Homo sapiens: one gene and its partners. The protein of the gene in region 2 purifies or fractionates together with the protein of the main gene of each other region. This does not show direct contact. Each region holds a gene or a part of one and is shown on either strand. Other genes may lie near its edges. The genes, in order: STARD7, GLTP and AMD1.

What was found.
Region 1: the proteins of GLTP (region 2) and STARD7 purify together in Homo sapiens (affinity purification with mass spectrometry; 2 studies listed by BioGRID and IntAct, with this or other methods). This does not show direct contact.
Region 3: the proteins of GLTP (region 2) and AMD1 purify together in Homo sapiens (affinity purification with mass spectrometry; 2 studies listed by BioGRID and IntAct, with this or other methods). This does not show direct contact.

What each region holds. Positions count from the first base shown.
Region 1 is NC_000002.12:96,202,211-96,205,958, reverse strand, and holds part of STARD7 (stAR-related lipid transfer protein 7, mitochondrial isoform 1 precursor), read left to right. Parts: intron 1-3,748. UniProt on the Homo sapiens protein: May play a protective role in mucosal tissues by preventing exaggerated allergic responses.
Region 2 is NC_000012.12:109,878,721-109,882,468, reverse strand, and holds the start of GLTP (glycolipid transfer protein), read left to right. Parts: upstream 1-1,927; 5' UTR 1,928-2,094; coding exon 2,095-2,197; intron 2,198-3,748. UniProt on the Homo sapiens protein: Accelerates the intermembrane transfer of various glycolipids. Catalyzes the transfer of various glycosphingolipids between membranes but does not catalyze the transfer of phospholipids. May be involved in the intracellular translocation of glucosylceramides.
Region 3 is NC_000006.12:110,884,745-110,888,492, reverse strand, and holds part of AMD1 (S-adenosylmethionine decarboxylase proenzyme), read right to left. Parts: intron 989-3,748; coding exon 902-988; intron 158-901; exon of another isoform or gene 87-157; intron 1-86.

The DNA of each region.
Region 1 (3,748 bases), on a different chromosome or scaffold from region 2:
TTAGGGTTGTTATAGTAAAGGCCCTCATTTAACATTTCATTGTTTGGTTCATGCTTGAATTTGGTTTTTCATGTAATTAAAATTTGATCATGTTGTTCATCTTGAGGATTTTTTTTCTTTTTAAAATATTTGTTAATGTGATAGGAAGGCAAATATGCTATTCAACAACTACATCTTGGTTGCACAGTGGTTCCTTAGGTCTTTGTTTTGATAGCTTGTCATGTTTATATTTTATTAAAATATTCTGGGTACAGATTAACTTATTTGCTTTGTGTTTAAGTATTCTATTTGCTTGAAAGTAGGCACTGCTGAGGTTGTCATAGCTAGCTTAGAACATCTTGGATTTCGTTTGTTCTAGTGAGATGATTTTTGGGTAGCTTCCATAATGGAGCACAGTTGGAGTGTGTCTCAAGTGCATTTCTTTCATTGTTAATGGAAAAAGAGCATGATTGTCACATGGCCCCTAAATCACAGCCTTTGGCTCATCTGTGCTGATTCTGTACCAACTTGTCCTGGCACAAACTAATTCTAACATAGCTGTTTTGGTTAAGCGGGTGGAATGTGCAGGGTGTCTTTTTGAATGTGTGCCTTAAAGTGGCATGTGTTTTCCTTATGTTATTTGAGTCCTATTCAGAATGACAAAGCATAACTTGTCTTCTCGTCTTTTGTGCTTAAGAACATCTTACCAAATAGCGTCTTATTAATCAAGCAACAGCAAGAAAATTTGAGAAGTGATTTTGACTGGCTGCTGTGGCCAGATGTAGAAATCAGATCTTTTAATACTTGCTCTAGTACCCAGTTGTCTTAAATTAAACAACGAAAATATCTTGGGATTGCTGTTTTTGGTGCTAGCTGGCATTCTGTGATTCCAGGGCAAATCTAATGGAAAAATACAGTAGTCATGTTTTTGATTGCTTTGGAACAGTTAAAAAGAAAAGTTACAGGAACAAAGAGAGGAAGGATGTTAAGAAATGAAAGGCTAGGGGAAAATGTTCCATTAACCTCCTCATAGTTTTTTAAAAGTTACAGTTCATTGCTCCAGAAATTTGAGTAAATAAGTGCCATTAAAGTTGCATAAAGAAAATTGGCCATTTTCTCTTTTCTGTCTTTCAGGGCATTCGGGATATGTTAAACTTCAGTGTGTTATTGACTAGATAAATGATCCGCATAAAGTCCTTTTGCCTTAAAGGAACTTTTTTTTTTTTTTTTGGCCATTGTCACTTCAGGGTATCTTACTGGTAAACCCTTAAACCCCTTGTTAGATCTTCAGAGCTACATAAAATTAGATCTCAATTTTTTGAGGTTGTCTTCATTATTTTACCATTAACTAGTTGCCCTAGAACTGCAATGAGCTAATTGATGTCCTGTCCTGTCCTGTCCTCCCCTTCCCTCCCGCCCCCTTCCGGGACAGAGTCTCACCCTGTCGCCCAGGCTGGAGTGCATTGGCATGATCTCGGCTCACTGCAACCTCCGCCTCCCAGGTTCAAGCGATTCTCCTGCCTCAGCCTCCACTGAGTAGCTGGATTACAGGTGCTTGCCACCACACCCGGCTAATTTTTTGTATCCTTAGTAGAGATGGGGTTTCACCATGTTGGACAGGCTGGTCTCCAGCTCTTGACCTCGTGATCCGCCTGTCTCGGCCTCCCAAAGAGTTGGGATTACAGGCATGAGACATCACGCCCAGACTCTTTTTTTTCTTAAGACATAATCTCACTCTGTCGCCCAGGCTGGAGTGCAGTGGTGTGATCTCACCTCACCGCAGCCTCCGCCTCCCTGGTTCCAGCTATTCTCGTGCCTCAGCCTTGCCAGTGGCTGGGTCTACAGCGGGGGTGCCACCACGCCTGTTTAATTTTTGTATTTTTAGTGGAGACGGGGATTCACCATGTTGGCCAGGCTGGTCTCGAACTCCTGCTCCTGACCTCAAACAGTCCTCACGCCTTGGCCTTCCAAAGTGCTGAGAGCCAGGCGCCTGGCTCTATGTCTTTTTTTGGGGGGTATGGAGTCTTGTTCTGTTGCCTAGGCTGGAGTGCAGCGGTGTGATCTGGGCTTACTGAAGCATCCACCTCCTGGTTTCAAGCAGTTCTCCTGCCTCAGCCTCTCAAGTAGCTGGGACTACAGGCATGCCCCACCACGCCCACCTAATTTTGTGTGTTTATTTTTAGAAGAGAAGGTTTCACTGTGTTGGCCAGGCTGATCTCCAACTCCTGATCTCAAGTGATCCGCCTGCCTTGGCCTCCCAAAGTGCTGGGATTACAGGCATAAGCCACTGCGCCTGACTCCTATGTCTTTTATTTCTAGGTGTGTCCCGTATCAGTAGAACCTGACTTTGACAATAACTTGGAATTTGAAGAGGAGGAGAATTATGTGAAGTGAGGCTGTTGTCTGACTGAAATTCCTAATTGTAGGGATGGTTTCATTTAAGTAATTTTGGAGCCTTACACCAAGCTCCATGCTGAGGGCAGGACCCCTAGATGAACCAAATGTTGTTTCACTTACTTTGTTTTCATGGTTTGTTTGCTTTCAGTTTCTATAGCTTTCGGTCCAGCCTTTTTCAGATATTGAAATGATTTTCGTTTTGGAGAAAGAAAGGCATGGTCTCTCTTTTCTTGATCCTTTTTCTAATCTGCTGATTTTACTATTTTGGGAATAATCTCTTTTGTCCTTCTGTCCTCTCTTAAGTCTCTTAAGATGTGAAGGTTTAGCCACCCATCCCATCCAAACAAGATTGGGCACAGCAGCCTAAAGAGATGTGTCATGAGAGGTTTTCCTTTTCTCCACATATATGTTAGTGAATGACTTTGTGCTCCTGTATGTTAATTGGGTCTTGTCATGTTAGCATTTAGAAGTTCAGACCCTTCAGGGATTCCTAAACCTTGGGAAAAAATAACTTGATCATTTACATTTTCGTGAAGCAGTCTTGCTCTATCATTCATACTGTGTCTCCACAAGACATTTCCGTCCCTTTTCATAATTTTAGTCAAAGCCACCTAGTAACCTTTAATTATATAGGAGAGCTTGATTAAGCAGTGGGTCAGATGCTCTGAACCACCTTGATTCTTAGAAGGTCATGAAAAAATGTTGCCTATAGTTAATAATTTTCTTAAAACTTTATTAACTATGTAATTATTTTATGAGCCTCTGATGTTTTAGTACGACATTCCACCAGTGGAAACATGCTCCCCTTTATTATGTGGCAAGAATGATAATTCGGGCCAGGTGTTGTGGCATGTGCCTGTACTTGGGAGGCTGGAGGATCACTTGAGCCCAGGAATTTGAGGCCAGCTTGGGCAATGAAGAAAAAAATTTTTTTTAAAGAATGACACTCAAGAGTTGTGCTTAGTTATTGTTGAAGGATGCTTTATAGACCTCAAAAATGCTGTAATCGATGCCCTATGGTGCCTGATTGTTCTCTGAGCAAATCTAGCTATGGTTTTGCTTTTGCTCTTCTTCTGCAACATCTAAATGCCTATCCTAAGGTTCCTTCTCTGTTTCTCTATGGTTTTGCAGCTGGTCAGGGTTCTTGGTTGTAACAAAGAAACTGGTCTTGGTTAATTTAAGCCAAAAAGGAATTAATCAAAACGGTATTAGGTCACTCAGTATTGACAAGGCCAGGGTACAGGTTGACCAAGACCTGCAGCAGGAATAATCTACTTAGAGCAGTGTTGCTGGCATTCTTTCCCCCAGATTGGTTGTACTCCTGGACTCCCAGCTCCCTCAAGATCCTGTGCCTTTGTGTTATCTTCAAGAT
Region 2 (3,748 bases):
ATGTGCCTCACACCCCAAGTCTTTTTTTTTTTTTTTTTTTAGACGGAGTCTCGCTCGCTCTGGCTGGAGTGCAATGGCACGGTCTTGGCTCACTGCAACCTCCACCTCCCTGGTTCAAGCAATTCTCCCTGCCTCAGCCTCCTGAGTAGCTGGGATTACAGGCTCCTGCCACCACACCCAGCTAACTTTTGTATTTGTTAGTAGAGATGGGGTTTCACCATGTTGGCCAGACTCACACCCCAAGTCTTTGACCTGGCTCTATCCTACTTCTCCTCTAGGTCTCAGCTCAAATATCACCTCTTCAGAGGTACTGCTCCCAAACCCCTACATCCGATCTCAGCCAACAGGCTTCAGTCATCCTCCGTCACTACACTGTTTTATTTTCTTCACATACTCATCAGTGTCTGAAGTTGTCTTACCAATTTGTGTATTGCATTGTGTTGTGTTCCCAACCAGATTGTCAGCTCCACAAGGGCAGGGATTTTGCTGTATCATTCACTTTATCCTCAGTGCCCAGTGCAGTGCATGACACATAGTGGTGGAGGGTGGGGGAGGGGTGGGAAGGATGGCAAATGTTTATTCTGGAATGAATAAGAGGCTCTCAACAATGGTGTGTTAGATTTTTGCATAAGCTGGGCATTGGGTTTAGGACATAAGCATCTAGGTGGGTTGTGGCTGAGATGACTTGTGATTCAAGGTGTGAGAAGCTGGACCCTGGGCTGTTGGAGAGACATTAGGTTTGGGAAACAAGTGTCCAGGTTGTGGGTGAATTGGTATAAACTGGGCTGGCTCCAGCTGTTACCAGTAGAAGGTGTCCAGGTACTTGGCATCTTGGAGAAAACACACAAACGAAGCAAGGAAAGCAAAAGCAAGGATTTACTGAGAACGAAAAGTCCACCCCACAGTTTGGGAGCAGGCTTGAGCGTAGAGGCTCAAGAGCTCTGCTTACAGAATTTTCTAGGGTCTCAATACTCTAGAGGTTTCCCATTGGTTACTTGGTGAATATTCTATGTAAATGAAGAGAATGAAGTGAAGTCACAGAGTCATTTACTCAGAATGTGCCCTATTGCAAATGGAGAGGATGTGCAAATGGAGAGGATGTTACTTGGTGGGAGAGGATGAATGTGAAGTTACAAAGTATAAATGGAGAGGATGTTTCTTGGAGTGTGTGGTCTGTGTAAATGGAGAGGATGAATGTGAAGTTACAAAGTGTAAAGGGCGTGAATGGAGAGGATGAAGTGAAGTTGCAAAGCCGTTTACATTCCTGTCATTGCTAAGGTGCTTTTTGATTTAGGTCTAGGAAGTCAGCCTTATGTTCCCTGCCTCCAGGCCCTATTTTTCTGCCTCACAACAGGTAACATCAGACTGTTGAGGGCAGACTGGACCCCAGATTTCGGGAAGCAGGAGTTGTCCAGCAGGGCAGTGGCTGAGTTAGACTGTGACTTCAGCAGTGTTCAACAGGTATAAGGTCATTGAAGACCAAGAATCAAGCAATCGAGCGTCCTCGTCGGTTGTAGCGAAAGAGAACCGTGACCAACAGGAGAGCAGTGTCCACCCAGGTCACTTGGGGTTACTGGGGTACAATTTTGGGGGAAACGGGGGTCCTGGGGAGCGTTGGCTGGGTGGGGCTGTAACCCGAGCTGGTGGGCGGGTTGTGAGCTGTGACCTGGCCCGAGTCGGCCCGCCCGGATTGGGGGGCCAAACCGGGGGCGGCGGGAGGCACACCTGGGGAAGACTCACCTGGGAGCGGCTCACTTGGGCCCTCCGGGACCCATGAACCGGCGCACCTCCTCTGCGTCCCGCCCCCGGCCGGCCCCCCGGCCAATGGGGGCGCGGAGACCTCGGCGGCGGGCGCGGATTGGGAGCCGGTGAGCGGGGGCGGGGCGGCGCGCCCGGCAGTTTAGGCGCTCGGCCGGCGGGCGGCGCTGAGCGCTCGGCTACGAGGGCGCCGTGCGGGCGGAAGTGGCGACGCTGGCGTCCCCGGAGCCTGCGGCGGGCGGCTGTGACGGCCCCGGCGCTGACGGCGGCGGCCGGGGGGGCGGTGTCGACGCCCGCGGCGCCGGCTGGGGCATCACCGCGGGCCTCGACCCCGAAATGGCGCTGCTGGCCGAACACTTGCTGAAGCCGCTGCCCGCGGACAAGCAGATCGAGACCGGGCCCTTCCTCGAGGCGGTGTCCCACCTGCCGCCCTTCTTCGGTGAGCCGGAATGGAGGGGGGAGGCGGCCCGCAGCCCCACGCGCACCCGAATCCTCCTTCCCCCGAGCATCCCCTAACCATCTCTGCCCTAGACACCCCTAAGTACTGTTTCCCCAGGCACCCAAGATCCTCTTTCCCTCCACTCACCCTAAATTCTCCCTTTCCCGGACCACTCCCAAGTCCTCTCCGCTCTAAACATGTCACATCCTGCCTGTCCTCCCCAAATCCTCCCTCTCCCTAGACACCTCACAGTCCTACATATCCCCCAAATGCCCCCTGATCATCCGTGCCCCCAACACGGATGATCTTCCATCTCCCTTAGGCATTCTGTAATCCACCATCTCCCCCAAAGCCTCCTGCCCCTTCTTCCCCAAAGTCCTTCATCCCTGGCGCTTTCTGATGGCTCTCAACTCGCTCCCCTTACAATGAATCCCCCCATTTCATAAGCCTTCTCTTTGAACGCTTCCAGCCTCTCCCTCATGGGACCTACAAACCCTTCCTTCTTCCCTCAGAATTCGCCCATTCCAGATCAAAGACTCCCATCTCCCCCTCCAAGGGTAGGAAGCCTGGTGAGGCGGGGACAAGGAGAGGGTTTTGAAGATGGAGTTGCAAAATTCCAGGGCCTCTTTCTAGGGGAAACCACCTAAAGTTTTTCCTCCTTTTAGGACAGGGGTGAGGGTTGTCGGGGGAGCTGTTTTGTGAGGTGACATCAGACATACAGAGCTTGGCACCAATTCCTCCCTCAGTTTGGGCTCTACGAGAGGAAGCCCCTCCCCTGTATGTCGTGTGGAAGTTCCTGGGCGCATTGGGAAGGCGGTCCACTTTCAGACCCTCTTCCCGCACTCCCTCAGCCTAGCCCAGTCCAGCCAAGGCCCCAGATGGAAAATGGGAACTAGAAGCCAGCACCACTGCCCCTGCCCTTTGCCTTTTGGGTCCCGGGTAAAGGGTGCAACCTGAGCCTCTATTCTCCTTCTCCATGTGGGCTCTGTCCTGTCCTGCTGGTTCACTTGGTGGCCTTGCAGGAAAATACCAGCCCCCAGGGCAGAGTCCACCTGAAACCCAAAGACAGGAGATCTTAAGACAGTCCGACTTAGTGGGCAAAGAAGGCTTGTTAGGGGTGGTAGTTCCCACAGTGTCCTGAGCTCTGGGATGGTTGTGGTTACCTGGAGGCTATAGTTCCCCTCCTTCACCTCGTGAGCCTCAGTGTCCCCAGCTGTGAAACGGGGATGCTGATCTCCTAGGGCAGCTGTGAGGAGTCGATGAGGTGGTGTGTGTAAAGTACCGAGGCCGTAAGTGCCAAATAGGTCTTCGCTGTAGGGGGTGTGGTTTTAAGTTCCTGAATCCAGTTTTGGTTCCTTGCTAGAGTGATTAATCGGTGTTTGAGGGAGTGCAATTGTCTGGTGTGTATGATTCCCAGACCTGGGTAAGCAACCTGAGAGCAAGGGCTTGGTTTTTTACATCCACTCTGTGTCCTCAGTGCCCAGAACAGTGCCTGGCACATAGCAGATGCTCAGTCAATACTGCTGAATGCACAAAACTTTCTTATTATCA
Region 3 (3,748 bases), on a different chromosome or scaffold from region 2:
TAAAAATACAAAAATTAGCCGGGCACAGTGGCAGGCGCCTGTAATACCAGCTACTTGGGAGGCTGAGGCAAGAAAATCGCTTGAACCTGGGCGGCAGAGGTTGCAGTGAGAGGAGATTGCGCCAATGCACTCCAGCCTGGACAGACTGAGACTCCGCCTCAGAAAAAAAAAGGGGGGGAGGGGCTGTTTAGTCCAGTATCCCCCAGCAAGGCCCATCACAATATATACTATAAGCATTAAAAGTATTTATGGAATAAATTAACTCTGCAACTACAAAAAAGGTGATGAGCTTTTATATACCAATTAGACAACTGTATTTGTATAGAGAAGCTAACTTTCCCTTTGCCTGAACTTCTAATTAAGAGGTCCTTCTTTACCAATTGGGAGGAAAAGACGGCAAACACCTTGAACTGTCCGGTGAGGCTTCAAAACCTATGTCCTAGAAACATCCACGTTACACTAAATGTTTCCTTTTATACCATATTTTTAAGAATAATGTAAAAAAAAGGCTGGGCGCGGTGGCTCACGTGTATAATCCCAGCACTTTGGGAGGCCGAGGTGGATGGATCACCTGAGGTCAGGAGTTCAAGACCAGCCTGGCCAACATGGTGAAACCCCGTCTCTACTAAAAATACAAAAATTAGCCGGGCATGATGGAAGGTGCCTGTAATCCCAGCTCCTCAGGAGGCTTAGGCCGGAGAATTGCTTGAACCAAGGAGGCGGAGGTTGCAGTGAGCTGACATGGCGCCATTGCACTCCAGCCTGGGTGACTGAAACTCCGTCTCAAAAAAACAAAACAAAACAAAAAAACCCCCAGAACTACAACTGAGAGGAACTTAACTGTTTCACATTATGATTAGGACTGAAATTAGCTACCTAACACTTGTTTTACAGGACTTACCTGAGTACATAAGCTTCCTGCTTGTCAGTTTTTGTCACACTTATGATTGAACATTGCACATCCTTCAAAAGTATGTCCCACTCAGATCTATCATTTAACAAAAAAGTTACGATTAATCCACAATAGTACCCACCTACTCATAAAAATTACAAAGCTCACACTTTTTCTCATGAAGACCACATTTTTAATTAATATTGTACACCAACTTTTAGTTTCTTTCAAAATAATCTATATTGACACACCCAGATAAATGATAGGTATATTATGCTATATATGAAACAAAAATTGGTCATTATACTATGTATTTACAAATTACTTAAAGAAAAATAGGCAAAAAAATGTTCAAAGGTCCATAAACCAAGGTAAACCATTAACTAATCAATGATTACAGAAATTCAATGGGATACTTTGTCTATAAAATGTGCAGATTTTTAACCTTAAGAAACACTTAAAAAAAAAGAAGAGCATAATTTTACCAATCTAATTGGCATAGAAATTTAAAAGCCTGTCTGTCGGGACACAGTGAGTGATGTTACTCTTATAGCACTCACAAAAAACTGGAATGACTGCCAATTACAAGCATACCTAGAAGATTTTGGGAATACTACGCAGCTCTCCAAATGCAATGAGAAAGCCCGTTTAACAGGAAATGTGCAGTACAAGCAACCATAGCAATGAAGGTCATATGGACATGAAGAAACTAGTCTTAATTTGCCTGAGAATAGAATTAGGAAAGTGTTCATTCTTTCATTAGTGTGCCCATTATAAAAAGACAATGTAATTCCATGGAACAGCTTAACATGACAGATATTATTTTTTGAGACAGGGTCTCACTCTGTCGCCCAGGTTGAAGTGCAGTGGTGCAATCACAGCTCACTTCGGCCTTGACCTCCCAGGCTCAAGCAATTCTCTTGCCTTAGTCTCTCAGGTAGCTAGAACCACAGGCATGTGCCACCATGCCCAGCTGTTTGCCAGAAATATTTTTTAGGCCAGGCGTGGTGGTTCACGCCTGTAATCCCAGCACTTTGGGAGGCCAAGGCGGTGGATCACTTGAGGTCAGGAGTTTGAGACCAGCCTGACCAACATGGTGAAACCCTGTTTCTACTAAAAATACAAAAATTAGCCGGGCGTGGTGGCAGGTGCTTATAATCTCAGCTACTCAGGAGGCTGAGGCTGAGGCAGGAGAATCGCCTGTAATCCTAGCACTTTGGGATTGGGATGGCTTAAGCTCAGGAGTTTGAGACCAGGCTGGGCGATAGAGTAATACCCTGGTCTTTAAAAAAAGAAGAAAAATTTTTAAGCCTTATGATATCTGACAGGCCATTGCTCTACACTCATAAAAATGGCAAATCTTTTTTTTTTTTTTTTTGAGACTGAGTCTTGCTCTGTCACCCAGGCTGGAGTCCAGTGGCATGATCTCTGCTCACTGCAACCTCCACCTCCCAAGCAGCTGGGATTACAGGCACGTGCCACCACACCTGGCTAATTTTTGTATTTTTAGTGGCGACAGGGTTTCACCATGTTGGCCAGGCTGGTCTCATACTACTGACCTCAGGTGATCCGCCTGCCTCGGCCTCCCAAAGTGCTGGGATTACAGGCATGAGCCACCGTGCCCAGCCGGCAAATCTTTTGTTAACCAGATAAGACCTTTTGAGCGAAATCCAACAGCAAAATGTTTTTATTCGTTTGTATTAAAAAGCAAACACAACACCAAACATGCCTGGTAGAATTTTGTGCCTGTCTCACCATTTTGCTACAAGAAACTGTTACTGACCCATCTGCGTACCAATACCCATCCAAAAATCTTTAATGTGAAAGGCTTGCTAATGATTACAGAGCTGAGTTCCTGTATTAGACTATAACATGACTAAGCAACTTTTTTAAAAGAGCTACTAAAAAGTTTTAAGGTTCTTTAAAAAGGGTGCTAACAATTTGTTCATATATGGAAAGAATACATATGTGGGATATATACTGTGACAACCCTTGAAATTACCCCTGGCTTGTGTGGTGGCACACGCCTGTAATCCCAGCTACTCGGGAGGCTGAGACAGAAGAATCACTTGAACCCTGAAGGTGGAGGTTGCAGTGAGCTGAGATCTTGCCACTGCATACCAGCCTGGGCAACAGAGGGAGACTCCGTCTCAAAAACAAACAAACAAAACAAAAACAACAAAAACTTGGCCAGGCACAATGGCTCATGCCTGTAATCCCACCACTTTGGGCAGCCGAGGCGCATGGATCACCTGAGGTCAGGAGTTTGAGACCAGCCTGGCCAACATGGTGAAACCCCATCTCTACTAAAAACACAAAAAATTAGCTGGGCGTAGTGGTGGGCGTCTATAATCCCAGCTACTCTGGAGGCTGAGGCAGGAGACTGAATGCGGGAGATGGAGATTGCAGTGAGCCGAGATCGCACCACTGCATTCCAGCCTGGGCGACAAAAGTGAATCTCCATCTCAAAAAAATAAACAAACTACTCGTGGGAATGAAATCCTGCTTCACTTGACTAAGATAAATTTACAAAATCCTTGCAAAAATTATCTACTATTAAGACTCCCATTCCTGAATATGAAGGTAAATAAAAATATCCACTATGATTTAAGTATTAGAAACATTACAATTTCAGATTTTTAAAGAGCTTATCTAATTCAGGTCCATCAATAATGCTACCTGCTTAAGTCATCACCTACTGACTTCCCACTATAACTTATTCTTGCACATACTCCTTTTTACCCACTGGACGCACTAACAAATCCCACCCTCCCTTTCTCAGTTATATTCACCATTTCTATTAAGACTTTTAAACACGTTCCATGGCTGAACTAAACAGTGTAACAGTCTTTTCCT